Regions from separate parts of the Homo sapiens genome. Here region 2 is linked to region 1. The links come from fine-mapping of genetic effects on gene expression. A gene starts in region 1. The other region holds a variant in brackets. All regions are shown on one strand. Distances are from middle to middle. Region 1 holds the start of DNTTIP1 (deoxynucleotidyltransferase terminal interacting protein 1). Region 2 has its middle 34 kb from the start of WFDC3.

What was found. PIP is the estimated chance that this variant, and not a neighbour inherited with it, causes the effect. A credible set is the group of variants that fine-mapping cannot tell apart.
Region 2: its variant is the best candidate, but not a certain one, in a credible set for the expression of DNTTIP1 in subcutaneous fat (TwinsUK, PIP 0.52).

Annotation. Positions count from the first base shown.
Region 1 is chr20:45,787,558-45,795,686 of GRCh38, forward strand. It overlaps DNTTIP1 (deoxynucleotidyltransferase terminal interacting protein 1), which reads left to right and starts at 4,397. Exons shown (of 13, transcript NM_052951.3): 1 at 4,397-4,552; 2 at 5,120-5,190; 3 at 6,364-6,460; 4 at 7,788-7,886. The coding sequence starts at 4,448. It overlaps WFDC3 (WAP four-disulfide core domain 3), which reads right to left and starts at 4,326. Exons shown (of 7, transcript NM_080614.2): 1 at 4,275-4,326; 2 at 2,337-2,425; 3 at 1,374-1,502; 4 at 279-425. The coding sequence starts at 2,418. RefSeq lists silencers at 4,480-4,749, 4,960-5,099.
Region 2 is chr20:45,753,841-45,761,969 of GRCh38, forward strand. No RefSeq gene overlaps it. Among named protein-coding and RNA genes, the nearest start is that of WFDC3, 34 kb to the right of the region's middle. The variant C/CA (reference allele first, on the strand shown) is at 3,416.

The sequences.
Region 1 (8,129 bases):
TGGGATTCCAGGCATGAGCCACCACACCTGGCTACTCAACCGTTTTCAAAGCAGTCTGCAAATGAGGGTAAGTTGAGGCTGCCCTTCTGGCACCCTCCCTCTGCCTGCCCAGGCTACATACCACAAATGATTATGGCTTGTGCACCCTTTGTATATCTTTTTTTTTTAAGGTCTTAGAATATAGCAGCAAAGTAAAACCAACAAGCTGATATGTGCATATTTGAGAAATAAACAAGCAGACCAAACAGACCATGAGGTGTGGGGACAGCGTTTCTTACCCAGCTTCTGTTTAGAGATTGGGACTACACAGCTCTTGTTGCAGCCAAGCGTGCAGCATTTCTTTACACCTGGACATGTCTCATCAGTGATGCACCTTTTCAAACAGGATTGTTTCCGAATAACCCTAGGGCAATCTCTTTTCCTCCCTGTAGCAAAAAGGGAGACAGCAAAGAAAAGAGAAAATAGGCCGAGCGCCATGGCTCACACCTGTAATCCCAGCACTTTGGGAGGCCAAGGCGGGTGGATCACCTGAGGTAGGGAGTTCGAGAACAGCCTGGCCAACATGGAGAAACCCCATCTCTACTAAAAATACAAAATTAGTCGGGGGTGGTGGCACATGCCTGTAAATCCCAGCTACTTGGGAGGCTGAGGCAGGAGAATCACTTGAACCCGGGAGGCAGAGGTTGCGGTGAGCCGAGATCACGCCACTGCATTCTAGTCTGAGCAACAAGAGCGAAACTCCGTCTCAAAAAAAAAAGAGAGAGAGAGAGAGAAAATAGTGCCTGGCAACACCCACGGGCACAGCAGAAGGGAAAAACAGAAAAAGGAAGTCCTGAGATTTATTTAAGCCTCTCAACCCTGGTGCTAAGACAAAGAGACAATAATAACAACAATAGTAATAGCAAATATTTACTGTAACATTTACTGACGTTTACCTTGTGCCATGAACATCTTATTTGATCCTCACAATTATCCCCATTTTATAGATGAGGAAACTGAGGCTAAAAGCTTAAGATTTATAAAGAGCTAAGGCTTAAGGCTTAAAAAGGTCTGCTTGGCTCTAGGGTCTACTCTCTTAATCATTATCTTACACAGCCTTCCCTTTACAACTCTTCCCTCCAGCCTTCACAGGAACTTTGAGTCCAAAGTAAAAGACATAGATAATCAATGGTGCGCTCTTTCCTGATGGAAGGCAAACAACTGGGGGCACTGAATAATTAAAGGAGGAGGGACCCTAAAAGAGTAAAGAAGAAGTACTCTAGGCAAGGGAGACTTCCAGAGGCAACCTAGAAGGTGGGAAGCTCTCTACTTCCATCTATCCCAGAGGCAATGTCAGAGAGTATGCCCAGATTTTGCCCCTCATGCCAACATACCCTTAGGAATGTCTCGGCAGATCCGACCACAGCCTGTGGTGCAGCACTTCTGTTCAGCCGGACACAATTCATCACCCTGGCACAGCTCTTTGCATGGGTTCTTATGGGGAGGGCATTCTCCCTCTTTTGCTGCAAAAGATACTATTTGAGTTTGGGGTAACTAGCCAGGCCTCAGAAATGGGGAATGGACCTTCAGCCCCTCCAGGCATCTCTATCCAAAATATTTCTGCACCACTGCACTCTAGCCTGGGTGACAGAATGAGACCCTGTCTCTTAAAAAAAAAAAAAAATTCTGGCTGGGCACGATAGCTCATGCCTGTAATCCCAGCACTTTGGGAGGCCGAGGCGGGCGGATCATGAGGTCAGGAGATCGAGATCATCCTGGCTAACACAGTGAAACCCCATCTCTACTAAAAATACAAAAAATTAGCTGGGCGTGGCGGCGGGCACCTGTAGTCCCAGCTACTCGGGAGGCTGAGGCAGGAGAATGGCGTGAACCTGGGAGGTGGAGTTTGCAGTGAGCTGAGATCACGCCACTGCACTCCAGCCTGGGTGACAGAGTGAGACTCCATCTCAAAAAAAAAAAAAAAATTCTGCAACCACCTTCCCCTCCTCATACACAAATACTAACATATATCCACCACTGCTAAAGGAGCAGCCATCCTGCAGATAACGAGAGAGAAAGGGTGGGATGATCCTGTTCTCATTTAATGAGTTCTAGGGAAAAGCTAGAACCTCTAGTAAGCCCAACTGGAAGTCCTATCTCCTTGTCCAGAGAGGGTAAAGAAAGCCAGGAAGAATGACCCAGGCCATCCTGAGAATCTATTCATCCAGTCCTGTCCTATAGAGATGATCATCTCCACTTACAAGCAACCTTGCTCTGGGAGAAGGCAGGGGATGAGTTCTCCTCTCCTCTAGTCACTTTCTGTTACTGTTGGCCAGGGATCCCAAATGATAGCTCACCATGTTCTCCTGCAGTTATCCAGGATTCCAGAGACCCAAGAGCAAGAAGTGCCTTCAGAAGAAAGAGGCAGCTTAACATCATGATGATGCTGAGAGTTGGGACAAGAGCTCAGTTCAGGCTAGAGGTGTACACCTTGCCCAGAGTATCAGCTGAGGTATGAGCAGGACTAGGGATGGCCCCAAACCCAGTCCCAAAACCTTCCCTTTCACAATACTCCCCAAGAATATCTTCTCCTGACAAGAAGAAGAGGGATTGGCTGCTGGAGTGTGGGAAAATTCCTGGCACTACCAAAGGGGACCTGTGATGGGAGGATCAAATTCTGTAAGCAATATACACAATATTCCTGGATGATGAGAAACCTAGTGGGTGGCTGGAAAAATGGAGGGGTGGCCATTGGAAAAAGAATCAAAGAGAGCCCTAAAGGGCATTGGAAGGACATGGCTTTAGCCCAAATAACAGAGGGAGGGATTCACGACACTACTTAATGGCCAAAGCTAATAACATAACCAAGCATAATAAAATTGTGGCTCCTGTTCATCCTAGCAACCAAGAAAATACAGAATGGAACAGACCACTCAGAAACTATCAAATAGGCCAAGGCGGGCAGATCACCTGAGGTCAGGAGTTTGAGACCAGCCTGGCCAACATGGCGAAACCCTGTCTCTACTAAAAATACAAAAATCAGCTGGGCATGCTGGTGCATGCCTGTAATCCCAGCTACGTGGGAGGCTGAGGCAGGAGAATAGCTTGAACCCAGGAGGCAGAGGTTGCAGTGAGTGGAGATCATGCCACTGCACTCCAGCTTGGGTAACAGAGTGAGACTCTGTCTCAAAAAAAAAAAAAAGAGAGAAAAGAAACTATCAAAAACCTACAGAAAAGCAGTAGTTGAGTTTGTTAAGAACTAATGAAAAGCACCAAACACCTACATCTTTGTCCCTCTAACCCACACAGGCCATTCTTGGACTGTATGAAGTCTAGCTGGCAGAACCCAAGAGAAGTTGCTATGTATGACTCAAATAGTCTGCCCACATATACCTCCTTTATTTCTTTTTTCTCCATTTCTTTTTTTCTTTATCTGTCCTGGTCATGCCTTTGGTTAGCTGTGATACCTAATGGTGTCCACTGGCACTGCTTAGTCCTATGGGCAGGTACAAGGTAAAACCTCCTTAATAGGATCAAAAAGTTTGGAGCCAGGAAGTCGCCCTTATGGTTAGAAGGCTGATGTTGGCTCATGGAGATAATTAACATTTGATGATGACCTCATATGTGCCTAATATGCTTTTTTTTTTTTTTTTTTTTTTTTTTTTGAGACAGAGTCTCCCTCTGTCCCCCAGGCTGGAATGCAGTGGCGCGATCTCGGCATAATTAACATTTGATGATGACCTAACATGTGCCTAATGTGCTTTTTTTTTTTTTTTTTTTGAGACAGTCTCCCTCTGTCGCCCAGGCTGGAGTGCAGTGGCGTGATCTCGGCTCACTGCAACCTCCGCCTCCTGGGTTCAAGAGACTCTCCTGCCTCAGCCTCCCGAGTAGCTGGGATTACAGGTGCCCACCACCACGCCCGGCTAATTTTTATATTTTTAGTAGAGACGGGGTTTCGCCATGTTGGCCAGGCTGGTCTCGAACTCCTGATGGCAAGTGATCCTCCCGCCTCGGCCTCCCAAAGTGCTGGGATTACAGGCGTGAGCCACCGCCCCTGGCCGAGCATATTAAAATCTAGTTTTCAAAAACTGAACTGCAGGCGCCGCTGTACCAAACGCTTCCCTCTGCTCCCCAACCCCAGCCTACAGAAAACTGGTCCCTTCCTCCTACCCCGCAGTCATCCCCAGGCCTTGGCCCAGCGGGAAACATCCCTTGACTGAACCGCCACTGAACACCCACACTGCACAATCGAGGCGCAGCCCTCCCGAGAGGAAGCCCCAACGACCTCCACCTACAAGGCCTCTAAGTGTAACTGTCCTGGGCGAGGCGCGGCGGTTCGGTTCCCATGGTAACCCCGCAGCTCCAGCGTCGCGCTTCCGGGCGGACGAGCAGCGCGCTCCAGTGACGTCACGGCGCCACTTTCCGGCCGGTGACAGAGTCCAGCGGAGTTGTGGGGGCCGGGGGCGCCATGGGAGCCACTGGCGACGCCGAGCAGCCGCGGGGACCTAGCGGGGCCGAGAGGGGCGGCTTGGAGCTGGGGGATGCGGGCGCAGCGGGGCAGCTGGTTCTTACGGTGAGGGCGCCCCCGGTGAGGTCTGGGCTCAGGCCGGGCACGGCCTCGGGGCTCCTGGGACCCTGGCCCGCGGGCGAGAGAACGCGGAGGCTGGAGCTGCAGAGGGGGTTGGCGTTTTCGCAGCCCGACGACCTGGATTTAAATTCTGGTGCCGCCCTCCTAGCTAGGTGACGTGGGCCATCTCTGTCAACCCCCTGAGTCCCAGGATCCTCTTCTATAAAATGGAAATGATTAGTACCTGTCTCATAAAACTTGTTGTGGGATGGGAAGATAAAGGCGGGTACAACGCCCCGGACATCACCTGACACAGAGTTGACCCTCGGTAAATACTGCTTCCCTTCCTCCTGCCGTGCCAGAAGGCAGGGTCGGGACTTTTAAGGCAGGAAACTTCCTCAGTTCCTCTTTTGTGGAGGAGGCCTTACAACTATCGTCCCACCCCAAGGCGGGAGAGATGGTGACGGATCTGAGAAGCAGGGATGTCCAGGTTTAACTTCATACCCACCCTCCACCTCCACCCCACCCCAGTGTCACAGGCCGCAGTGACATTTGTTCCGTTGGTCCCCACAGAACCCTTGGAACATAATGATAAAGCACCGGCAGGTGCAGCGGAGGGGCCGCCGCTCACAGATGACAACAAGGTAAGGCTGGCCCTGCATGGGGCTTATATCCCAGCCACTGGCTTGCATGGCAGATTTGGGATCCCCAGTGCACAAGGCTATGGAGATCTACAGCCGGTAGAAAGAGCACAGGACTGAGGAAGAGGAGACTCCGATTCTGTAACTCTGTGTGATCTTGAACTAGTCAAGTCACTTCCTTCTCTGAACTCACGTACAAAATGGGGAAGGGCACAGGAGATGGGTTGTGGAATAAACAATACCTAAGATCCCTCACATTCACTGGCTCTGTGGTTGAGGGCTCTAAAGAGGTCAGTTAGCATGGAGTTTAAGAGAACAGGCTCTGGAGTCAGACAACTGTGTTCTCATCAACAGACTCTGATGAGCCCGTTTTCTCAACTATAAAGAGGGATTAATAGTATGCATGTCAGGGAAGGGAGAGAGCACAAGGTGGGCCTTTGGGATGCTGATAGTGGTGAAATGGATGTTCACTATAATTACTCATTAAAGTGTATAGACTTTTCTGTATAAGTATTATATTTCATAAAAACACTTTGGGCCGGGCGCGGTGGCTCACGCCTGTAATCCCAGCACTTTGGGAGGCTGAGGTGGGTGGATCACCTGAGGTCGGGACTTCCAGAACAGCCTGACCAACATGGAGAAACCCCGTCTCTACTAAAAATAACAAAAAATTGGCCGGGCGCGGTGGCTCACGCCTGTAATCCCAGCACTTTGGGAGTCTGAGGCGGGCAGATCACCTGAGGTTGGGAGTTCGAGACCAGCCTGACCAAAATGGAGAAACCCGGTCTCTACTAAAAATACAAAAATTAGCCGGGCGTGGTGGTGCACACCTGTAATCCCAGCTACTAAGGAGGCTGAGGCAGGAGAATTGCTTGAACCCAGGAGGCAGAGGTTGCAGTGAGCCAAAACCACGCCACTGCACTCCAGCCTGGGCAACAGAGTGAGACTCCGTCTCAAAAAAAAAAACTTTGAAAATAATATGCACTTCATAGAGTTATTATGAGAAAGAAATAAAGTCATGCCTCTGTGATTTGCACAAAATCTGAGCATGTAGCTAGTTTTCAATAAAAGCTGTCTAGTATTGTTAAGGAATTCTATGTCCATAATTAACTGGGGAGGCTGGGAAAGAATATGTTTGGGACATGCCCCCTCACCCTGTCTCCCTCCTGAATGCAGTTTCACAGATCCTGCCATCTCCATGGATCTCCTCCGAGCTGTCCTGCAGCCCAGCATCAACGAGGAGATCCAGACTGTCTTCAACAAGTACATGAAGGTGAGAGGGACACAGGATAAAAAATAACAGGAGAAAGACTCATGAGGAGCCCAGTCCTTGCCTGCATCACCAGTCTGTCTCTTTCCTACATACAGATATCTAAAGTTTTCCTTTCTTGTTGTTTTTGTTTTGTTTTGTTTTGTGTTTTTGAGACAGATTCTCACTCTGTCACCCAGGCTGGAGTGCAGTGGCACAATATCGATTCACCGCAACCTCCACTTCCCAGGTTCCAGCGATTCTCATGCCTCAGCCTCCCTAGTGGCTGGGATTACAGGTGCCCACCACCTTGCAGGGCTAATTTTTGTATTTTTAGTAGAGACGGGGTTTCACTGTTGGCCAGGCTGGTCTCGAACTCCTGACCTCAAATGATTTGCCTGCCTTGGCCTCCCAAAGTGCTGGGATTATAGGTGTGAGCCAGGGCACCTGGTCAGTTTTCAAATTTTTAATCCCCCAAGAATTTTATTCCCTCCTTGAGGGTAATTCAGATACCTTTTTTTTTTAAAATCTGCCCTTGTCACGCACGTGGTTTTTTTTGCTGACCTCTTATAAGGATGAAGTGACTTAAATGTACTGTGCTGAGCACTGTGCTCCAGACATAACAAGTGTCCAATAAGTATTCTTATTAGTTGTTTAATAATATAACCATTATTGGGGCCATGCACAGTGGCTCACACCTGCAACCCCAGCACTTTGGGAGGCCGAGGCAGGATCACTTGAGGCCAGGAGTTTGAGAACAGCCTGGGCAACACAGTGGGACCTCATCTCTACTAAAAAAAAAAAAAAATTTTTTTTTTTTTTTTTGAGACAGAGTCTCACTCTGTCGCCAGGCTGGAGTGCAGTGGCACGGTCTTGGCTCACTGCAACCTCCGCCTCCTGGGTTCAAGCAGTTCTCTGCCCCAGCCTCCCAAGTAGCTGGGATTACAGGCATCCGCCACCACGCCCAGCTAATTTTTTGTATTTTTAGTAGAGACGGGGTTTCACCGTGTTAGCCAGGATGGTCTCGATCTCCTGACCTCGTGATCCGCCCACCTCGGCCTCGCAAAGTGCTGGGATTACAGGTGTGAGCCACCGCGCCCGTCCTGATTTTTTGCACTATTTACACCTCAATCTGTTGGGCACCCCCACGATTATATCCGTAAGAGGGGGAATAAAGGGAGGAGGTCAAGCCTGAAATGTGAATCTAAATCTGGCTGATCCCAAAGCCCTGCTCATAATCACTTTTCCCTTCTGTATGAAGCTAGGATAAAGACTTATTTTATATTCAGTTTCCTTCAGGTTGATGCACATTAACAGGACTCTGACCTTGTCCTCTGTTGTGCTCCCCTAGTTCTTCCAGAAGGCAGCACTGAACGTGCGAGACAATGTTGGGGAGGAGGTGGACGCAGAGCAGCTGATCCAGGAAGCCTGTCGGAGCTGCCTGGAGCAGGTGAGACCAAAGGGGACAAGAGATGCAGGCACAAGGTTTAGCTCTCGAGCCTCTGATAAGAAATGCGATCTTAAGCCGGACGTGGTGGCTCACACATGTAATCCCAGCACTGTGGGAGGCCAAGGTGGGCAGATCACTCAAGGCCAGGAGTTTGAGACCAGCTTGGGCAACGTGGCTAAACCCCATCTCTACAAACAATACGAAAATTAGCTGGGCATGGTGGTGCACGCCTATAATCCTAGC
Region 2 (8,129 bases), 34 kb before region 1:
AAGAAAAAAATGAAGACCAAATAAATAAAATCAGGGATGAAAAAGGACACATTACAACTGATACCGCAGAAATACAAAGAATCACTAGAGACTTTTTTTTTCCCCTGAGATGGAGTTTTGCTCTTGTTGCCCAGGCTGGAGTGCAATGGCACGATCTCAGCTCACTGCAACCTCCACCTCCCGGGTTCAAGCGATTCTCCTGCCTTAGCCTCCTGAGTAGCTGGGATTACAGGCATGTGCCACCACACCCAGCTAATTTTATATTTTTAGTAGAGACAGGGTTTCTCCATGTTGGTCAGGCTGGTCTTGAACTCCCGACCTCAGGTGATCCACTCGCCTCAGGCTTCCAAAGTGCTAGGATTACAGGCGTGAGCCACCGCATCCGGCCTGGATCATTAGAGGCTATTATGGAAAACTACACACCAACAAATTGGAAAACTAAAAAGATAAATTATTTGACACATACAACTTACCAAAATTGAATCATAAAGAAACAGAAAACTTAAACAGGCCAACTATGAGTAATGAGATGAAAGCAGAAATTAAACGTATCTCTTTAAAGAAAAGCATAGGACCTGATGGTTTTACTGCTGAATTCTACCAAATATTTGAAGAAGAATTAATACAAATTCTACTCAAATTATTCTAAAAAATTGAAGAGGGAATACTTCCAAACTCATTCTACAAGGCAAGAAGTACCCTGTGGCCAGGCATGGTGGCTCACGCCTGTAATCCCAGCACTTTGGGAGACTAAGAGACCAAGGCAGGTGGATGACTTGAGGCGAGGAGTTCAAGACCAGCCTGGCCAACATGGCGAAACCCTGTCTGTACTAAAAATACAAAAATTAGCCAGGGAGGTGGCGCATGCCTGTAATCCTAGCTACTCAGGAGGCCAAGGCATAAGGATCGCTTGAACCCAGGAGGTGGAGGCTGCAATGAGCCAAGATCGTGCCACTACACTCCAGCCTGGGCAACAGGGCGAGACTCTGTCTCAAAAAAAAGATCATTCACCATGATCAAATGGGATTCATCCCCAGATGCAAGGATAGTTCAACATATACAAATCAATAAGCGTAATACACCCCATCGACAGAATCAAAAGAGCCATATGATCATTTCAGTAGATTGTGAAAGAGCATTTGATAAAATTCAACATCCCTTCATGATAAAATTCTCAAGAAATTGGATATAGAAAGAACATACCTCAATGCAATAAAGGCCATAAGTGACAAGCACATAGCTAATACCATACGGAATGGGGAAAAACGGAAAGCCCTTTCCACTAAGGTCTGAAACAAGATAATGATGCCACTTTCACCACTGTTATTCAACATAGTACTAGAAATCCTAGCCAGAGCAATTAGGCAAGAGAAAGAAATAAAGGGCATCCAAATTGGAAAGGAAGAAGTCAAATTAGCCTTGGAAACACATGACATGATCTTATTTTTAGAAAAACCTACCCCACCAAAAAATTCTTAGAACTAATCAACAAATTTAGTTTAATTGCAGGATACAAAATCTACATACAAAAATCAGTAGTGTTTCTATATGCTAACAATAATCAATCTGAAAAAGAAACCAATAAAGCAATCTCCTTTACAATAGCTACAAAAAAAAAAAACCTAGGACAAAATTAATTAGAAGATCTCCACAAGGAAAACTATAAAATACTAATGAAAGAAACTGAAGAGTACACCAAAAAATGGAAAGATATCCCATGCTCATAGGTCAGAAGAATTAATATTGTTAAAATGCCCATAATATCCAAAGTGACCTTCAGATTCAATACAATCTCTATTAAAATATCAATGGCATTCTTCACATAAACAGGAAAAAAAAATTCTAAAATTTGTATGGAACGACAAAAGACCCCGAATAGCTAAAGCAATCCTGGGCAAAAACAACAAAGCTGGAGGTATCACACTACCTGAATTCAAATTATACAACAAAGCTATAGTAACCAAAACAAAGCTATAGTAACCAAAACAGCATGGTATTGGCACAAAAACAGACACATAGACCAATGGAACAGAATAGAAAACCCAGAAATCAATGCATGCACATATAGACAACTCTTTTTTTTTTTTTTTTTTTTTTTTTGTGAGACGGAGTCTTGCTCGGTCACCCTGGCTGGAGTGCAGTGGCGTGAACTCAGCTCACTGCAAGCTCTGCCTCCCGGGTTCACGCCATTTTCCTGCCTCAGCCTCCTCAGCAGCTGGGACTACAGGCGCACGCCGCTATGCCCGGCTAATTTTTTTGAGACAACTCATTTTTGACAAAGGTGCCAAGAACATATATTGGGGAAAGGACAGTCTTGTTAATAATTGGTGCCGAGAAAGCGGGATATCTATATGCAGAAGAATGAAACTAGATTGCAATCTTTTACCATATGCAAAAATCAAATAAAAATTGATTAAATACTGAAATCTAATGCCTGAAACTACAAAACTAGAAGAAAACATTAGTCAGGACATTGGTCTTGGGAAAGATTTTCTGGGTAAGACCTCAAAAGCAAAAGCAACAGAAGAAAAAACAAACAAATGGGATTACATCATTAAAAAGTTTCTACAGCCAGGCGCGGTGGGTCACGCCTGTAATCTCAGCACTTTGGGAGGCTGAGGCAGGTGGATCACCTGAGGTCAGGAGTTCAAGACCAGCCTGGCCAACATGGTGAAACCCCATCTCTACTTAAAATACAAAAAATTAGCTGGGTGTGGTGGTACACAACTATAATCCCAGCTACTTGGGAGGCTGAGGCAGGACAGTCGCTTGAACCTGGGAGGTGGAGGTTGCAGTGAGCCGAGATCATGACATTGCACTCCAGACTGGGGGAAAAAAGCAAGACTTCATCTCAAAAAAAAAAAAAAAAAAATTTCTGCATGGCAAAGGCCAGTTGCCTTTAATCCCCTATAATCCCCACACTTTGGAGGCCAAGGCAGGCAGATCACCTGAACCTGAGGTGGAGAGTTTGAGACCAATCTGGGCAACATGGTGAAACCCTGTCTCCACTAAAAATATAAAAATCAGCCAGATGTGGTGGTGCACACCTGTAATCCCAGCTACTCGGGAGGCTGAGGCACAAGAATCACTTGAACCCAGGAAGTGGAGGTTTCAGTGAGCCATGATTGCAGCACTGCATTCCAGCATGGGCGACAGCGTGAGACCCTGTCTCAAAAAAGAAAAGACAAGCTACAGGATGGAAGAAAATATTTCCAAACTACCTCATCAACAAGGGACTAGGCTATGCACAGTGGCTCACACCTATAATCCCAGCACTTTGGGAGACAGAGGCAGCAAGATCACTTGAGGCCAAGAATTTGAGACCAGTCCGGGCATCATAGCAAGACTCTGTCTCTACAAAAAAAAGGCAACAACAGGAATTAAAAATATATAAGAAACTCAAACAACTCAATAC[C/CA]AAAAAAAAAAAAAAAAAAAAATCTGGCTGGCACAGTAGTTCTCGCCTGTAGTCCCAGCACAAGGCCAAGGCAGGTGGATCACTTGAGGCCAGGAGTTTGAGACCAGCCTGGCCAACATGGCGAAACCCTGTCTGTACTAAAAATACAAAAATTAGCCAGATGTGGTGGTGCATGTCTGTAATCCCTGCTACTTGGGAGGCTGAGGCAGGAGAATCATTTGAACCCAGGAGGCAGAGGGCAGAGTTTGCAGTGAGACGAGACTGGGCCACTGCACTCCAGTCTGGGCAACAGAGCAAGACTCTGTGTCAAAAACATATATATATATATGCGTATATATACGCATATATATACATATAAGTATGCATATATATATGTGTATATATATGCATATGTATGTATATATATCTGTATATATATGCATATGTATGTATATATATCTGTATATATATGCATATATACATGTATATATATATCTGTATATATATGCATATATACATGCATATATATGTGTATATACATACAGATATATATATACACACACATATATACATATATCTCAAATAAAGAGACATTCTTGGGCAAAGGGGATTTGTCCCAGTGGTCTTGACAGTGCCACAAATCATTTTAACACTTTTGGGTATAGCCAGAACCATCCTAGTGGTCTGAAACACAAAAGTGAGGCCCAGACTACTTAGGGAGATCAGGCTGGGTGCCAGAAATTAAAAGGATAGGAGCCAGAGACAGGTAAGCAGAAAGTTTACAAGAAAAAAAAATGGAAGATGAACAAAGACCCTAGGCCTCTGCCAGGTGGGCTGTGAGAGAAGAGGTTTCAAAAGAGGAAGAACTTAAGATGACATTCTTACAGACAGACCCCTGGCCATTGCAGAAGCATTTCTGGGCTCCTTGGCGCCCCCCAGTCCAGGAGGCACTGCAGGACACAGGAGGCCTTGGAGCTCATGGGCACCAGAGCCCAGGCTTCCATGTAGCTGAGATACGATCTGGCACTGCAGTCCTCAAGGTCTTGCAGGGGCCCTCTGACCCCCGGTTCCAGCCCTGGGACACAATTGCCCTGCTACATGCTTCCTTTCTATAATTAAAGAAGGAAACCCTCAGGGCACCCCACTCCACCACTCACCTCTCGCCAGGGACCAGGTACCAGGGTGGGTGTCCTCTTCCTGAAAAAGAAAGGCTTAGATGAAGCAGTCCCTTGTGAAACAGGCAGCCATTAGCACCAGGGCCCAGCCTAGGTGAGAACTCTCAGGCCCTGCCTGGCAGCCCACAGCCAGGCATGGTTGAGATACCAAGTTACTCTACAGATGTCTTTGTTTTTTGTTTTTTTTGAGTCAGAGTCTCACTCTGTTGCCCAGGCTGGAGTGCAGTAGCGTGATCTCGGCTCACCGCAACCTCTGCCTCCCAGGTTCAAGCAATTCTCCTGCCTCAGCCTCCAGAGTAGCTGGAATTACAGGCGCCCACCACCAAGCCCAGCTAATTTTTGTGGGGGTTTTTTGGGGTTTTTTTGTTTGTTTGTTTTTGAGACAGAGTCTGGCTCTGTCACCCAGGCTGGAGTGCAGTGGCGCAATCTCGGCTCACTGCAAGCTCCGCCTCCCGGCTTCACGCCACTCTCCTGCCTCAGCCTCCTGAGTAGCTAAGACTACAGGCACCCACCACCACACCTGGCTAATTTTTTTTTTGTAATTTTTGTAGAGACAGGGTTTCACCTTGTTAGCCAGGATAGTCTCAATCTCCTGACCTCGTGATCCACCCACCTCAGCCTCCCAAAGTGCTGGGATTACAGGCTTGAGCCACCGCACCCGGCCAATTTTTGTATTTTTAGTAGAGACGGGGTTTCACCATGTTGGCCAGGCTAGTCTCAAACTCCTGACCTCAGGTGATCCACCCGCCTCAGCCTCCCAAAGTGCTGGGATTACAGACATGAGCCACCGTACCCAGCCTGCATTTTTTTTTAAGCATTAGGTTGGTGAAAAAATATTTTGATTTTTTTTAAAACAAGCAAGCATTACTTTTGTGATCTTTTAAAACTGATTGGATGAAAAAATGGAAAATGTAACATAAGAAGTGTCAGACCTCTGAGCCCAAGCTAAGCCATCATATCCCCTGTGACCTGCACATACACATCCAGATGGCCGGTTCCTGCCTTAACTGATGACATTCCACCACAAAAGAAGTGAAAATGGCCTGTTCCTGCCTTAACTGATGACATTGTCTTGTGAAATTCCTTTTCCTGGCTCATCCTGTCTCAAAAAGCTCCCCTACTGAGCACCTTGTGACCCACCCCCCAACTCTGCCCTCCAGAGAACAACTCCCCTTTGACTGTAATTTTCCTTTATCTACCCAAATCCCATAAAACGGCCCCACCCTTATCTCCCTTCACTGACTCTCTTTTCAGACTCAGCCCGCCTGCACCCAGGTGAAATAAACAGCCACGTTGCTCACACAAAGCCTGTTTGGTGGTCTCTTCACACGGACGCGCATGAAATTTGGTGCCGTGACTCGGATTGGGGGACCTCCCTTGGGAGATCAATCCCCTGTCCTCCTGCTCTTTGCTCCGTGAGAAAGATCCACCTATGACCTCAGGTCCTCAGACCGACCAGCCCAAGAAACATCTCACCAATTTTAAATTGGGTAAGCAGCCTCTTTTTACTCTCTCCTCCAACCTCCCTCACTATCCCTCAACCTCTTTCTCCTTTCAATCTTGGTGCCACACTTCAATCTCTCCCTTCTCTTAATTTCAATTCCTTTCATTTTCTGGTAGAGACAAAGGAGACACGTTTTATCTGTGGACCCAAAACTCCGGCGCCGGTCGCAGACTAGGGAAGGCAGCCTTCGCTTGGTGTTTAATCATTGCAGGGATGCCTCTCTGATTATTCACCCAGGTTTCAGAGGTGTCAGACCACGCAGGGACACCTGCCTTGGTCCTTCACCCTTAGTGGCAAGTCCCGCTTTTCTGGGGAAGGGTAAGTACCCCAACCCATTCTCTCTGTGTCTCTACCTCTTCTTTGCCTTTCTGGGGGGCAAGAAACCCCCAACCCCTTCTCCTTCACCCTTAGCGGCAAGTCCTGCTTTTCTAGGGGAGGGGCAAGTACCCCAACCCCTTATATCTCTGCACCCCGATCCCTTATTTCCACGCCCCAACCCCTTATATCTCTGTGCCCCAATCCCTTATTTCCACGCCCCAACCCCTTATATCTCTGCTCCCCGATCCCTTATTTCCGTACCCCAACCTCTTATATCTCTGCACCCGATCCCTTATTTCCACACCCCAACCTCTTATATCTCTGTGCCCCGATCCCTTATTTCCACACCCTGACCTCGTATCTCTGTGCCCCAACCCCTTTCCCACTTTTCTGGAGGGTAAGAACCCCCGAACCCCTTCCCTCCGTGTCTCTACTCTCTCTTTTCTCTGGGCTTGCCTCCTTCACTATGGGCAACATTCCACCCTCCATTCCTCCTCCTCCTTCTCCCTTCCTGTGTTCTTAAGAACTTAAAACCTCTTTAACTTTCACCTGACCTAAAATCTAAGCACCTTATTTTCTTCTGCAACACCACTTGACCCCAATACAAACTTGACAATGGCTCTAAATGGCCAGAAAACAGCACTTTCGATTTCTCCATCCTACAAGACCTAAATAATTTTTGTGGAAAAATGGGCATTTTTCACACTTCGTTCCCTCCCTAGTCTCTGTTCCCAATACGATTCCTCCCAAATCCTCCTTCTTTCCCTCCCGCCTGTCCCCTCAGTCCCAACCCCAAGCGTTGCTGAGTCTTTCCAGTCTTCCTTTTTTCTACAGACCCATCTGACCTTTCTCCTCCTCCCCAGGCTGCTCGTCGCCAGGCCAAGCTAAGTCCCAATTCTTCCTCAGCCTCCGCTCCTCCACACTATAATCCTTCTACCACCTCCCCTCCTCACACCCGGTCCAGCTTACAGTTTAGTTCTGCAACTAATTCTTCCCCACCTGCCCAGCAATTTCCTCTTAGAGAGGTGGCTGGAGCTGAAGGCATAGTCAGGGTACATGTACCTTTTTCTCTATCAGACCTCTCTCAGATCAGTCAGCATTTAGGCTCTTTCTCATCAGACCCCACTAAACATATACAGGAATTCCAATATCTAACTCTGTCCTACAATTTAACCTGAAGTGACTTAAATGTCATCCTGACTTCTACCCTCTCCCCAGATGAACAGGAAAGAGTTTTTTCTCTAGCCCAATTTCACACTGATAACCGCCGGCTTCGTGAACCTGACCTCCAGGAAGGCAGTAGAGCAGTTCCCCGAGAGGACCCCCAATGGAACTATAAGGCAGATTCCCCAGGTACAGCTAGGCGAGATTACATGGTTTCCTGCCTAGTTGAAGGGCTTAAAAAGGCAGCTTACAAAGCTGTTAATTATGACAAGCTTAAAGAAACTACCCGAGGTAAAGATGAAAACCCAGCCCAGGTCGTGGCCCGCTTAGCAGCAACCCTTACACACTTTACCGCCCTAGACCCAGAGGGGCCAGAAGGCCGCCTTATTCTTAATATGCATTTTATCACCCAATCCACTCCTGACATTAGGAAAAAACTTCGAAAATTAGAATCGGGCCCTCAAACCCCACAACAGGAATTAATCAACCTCGCCTTCAAGGTGTACAGTAATAGAGAGGAAGCAGCCAGACGGCAACGCATTTCTGAGTTACAATTACTTGCCTCTGCTGTGAG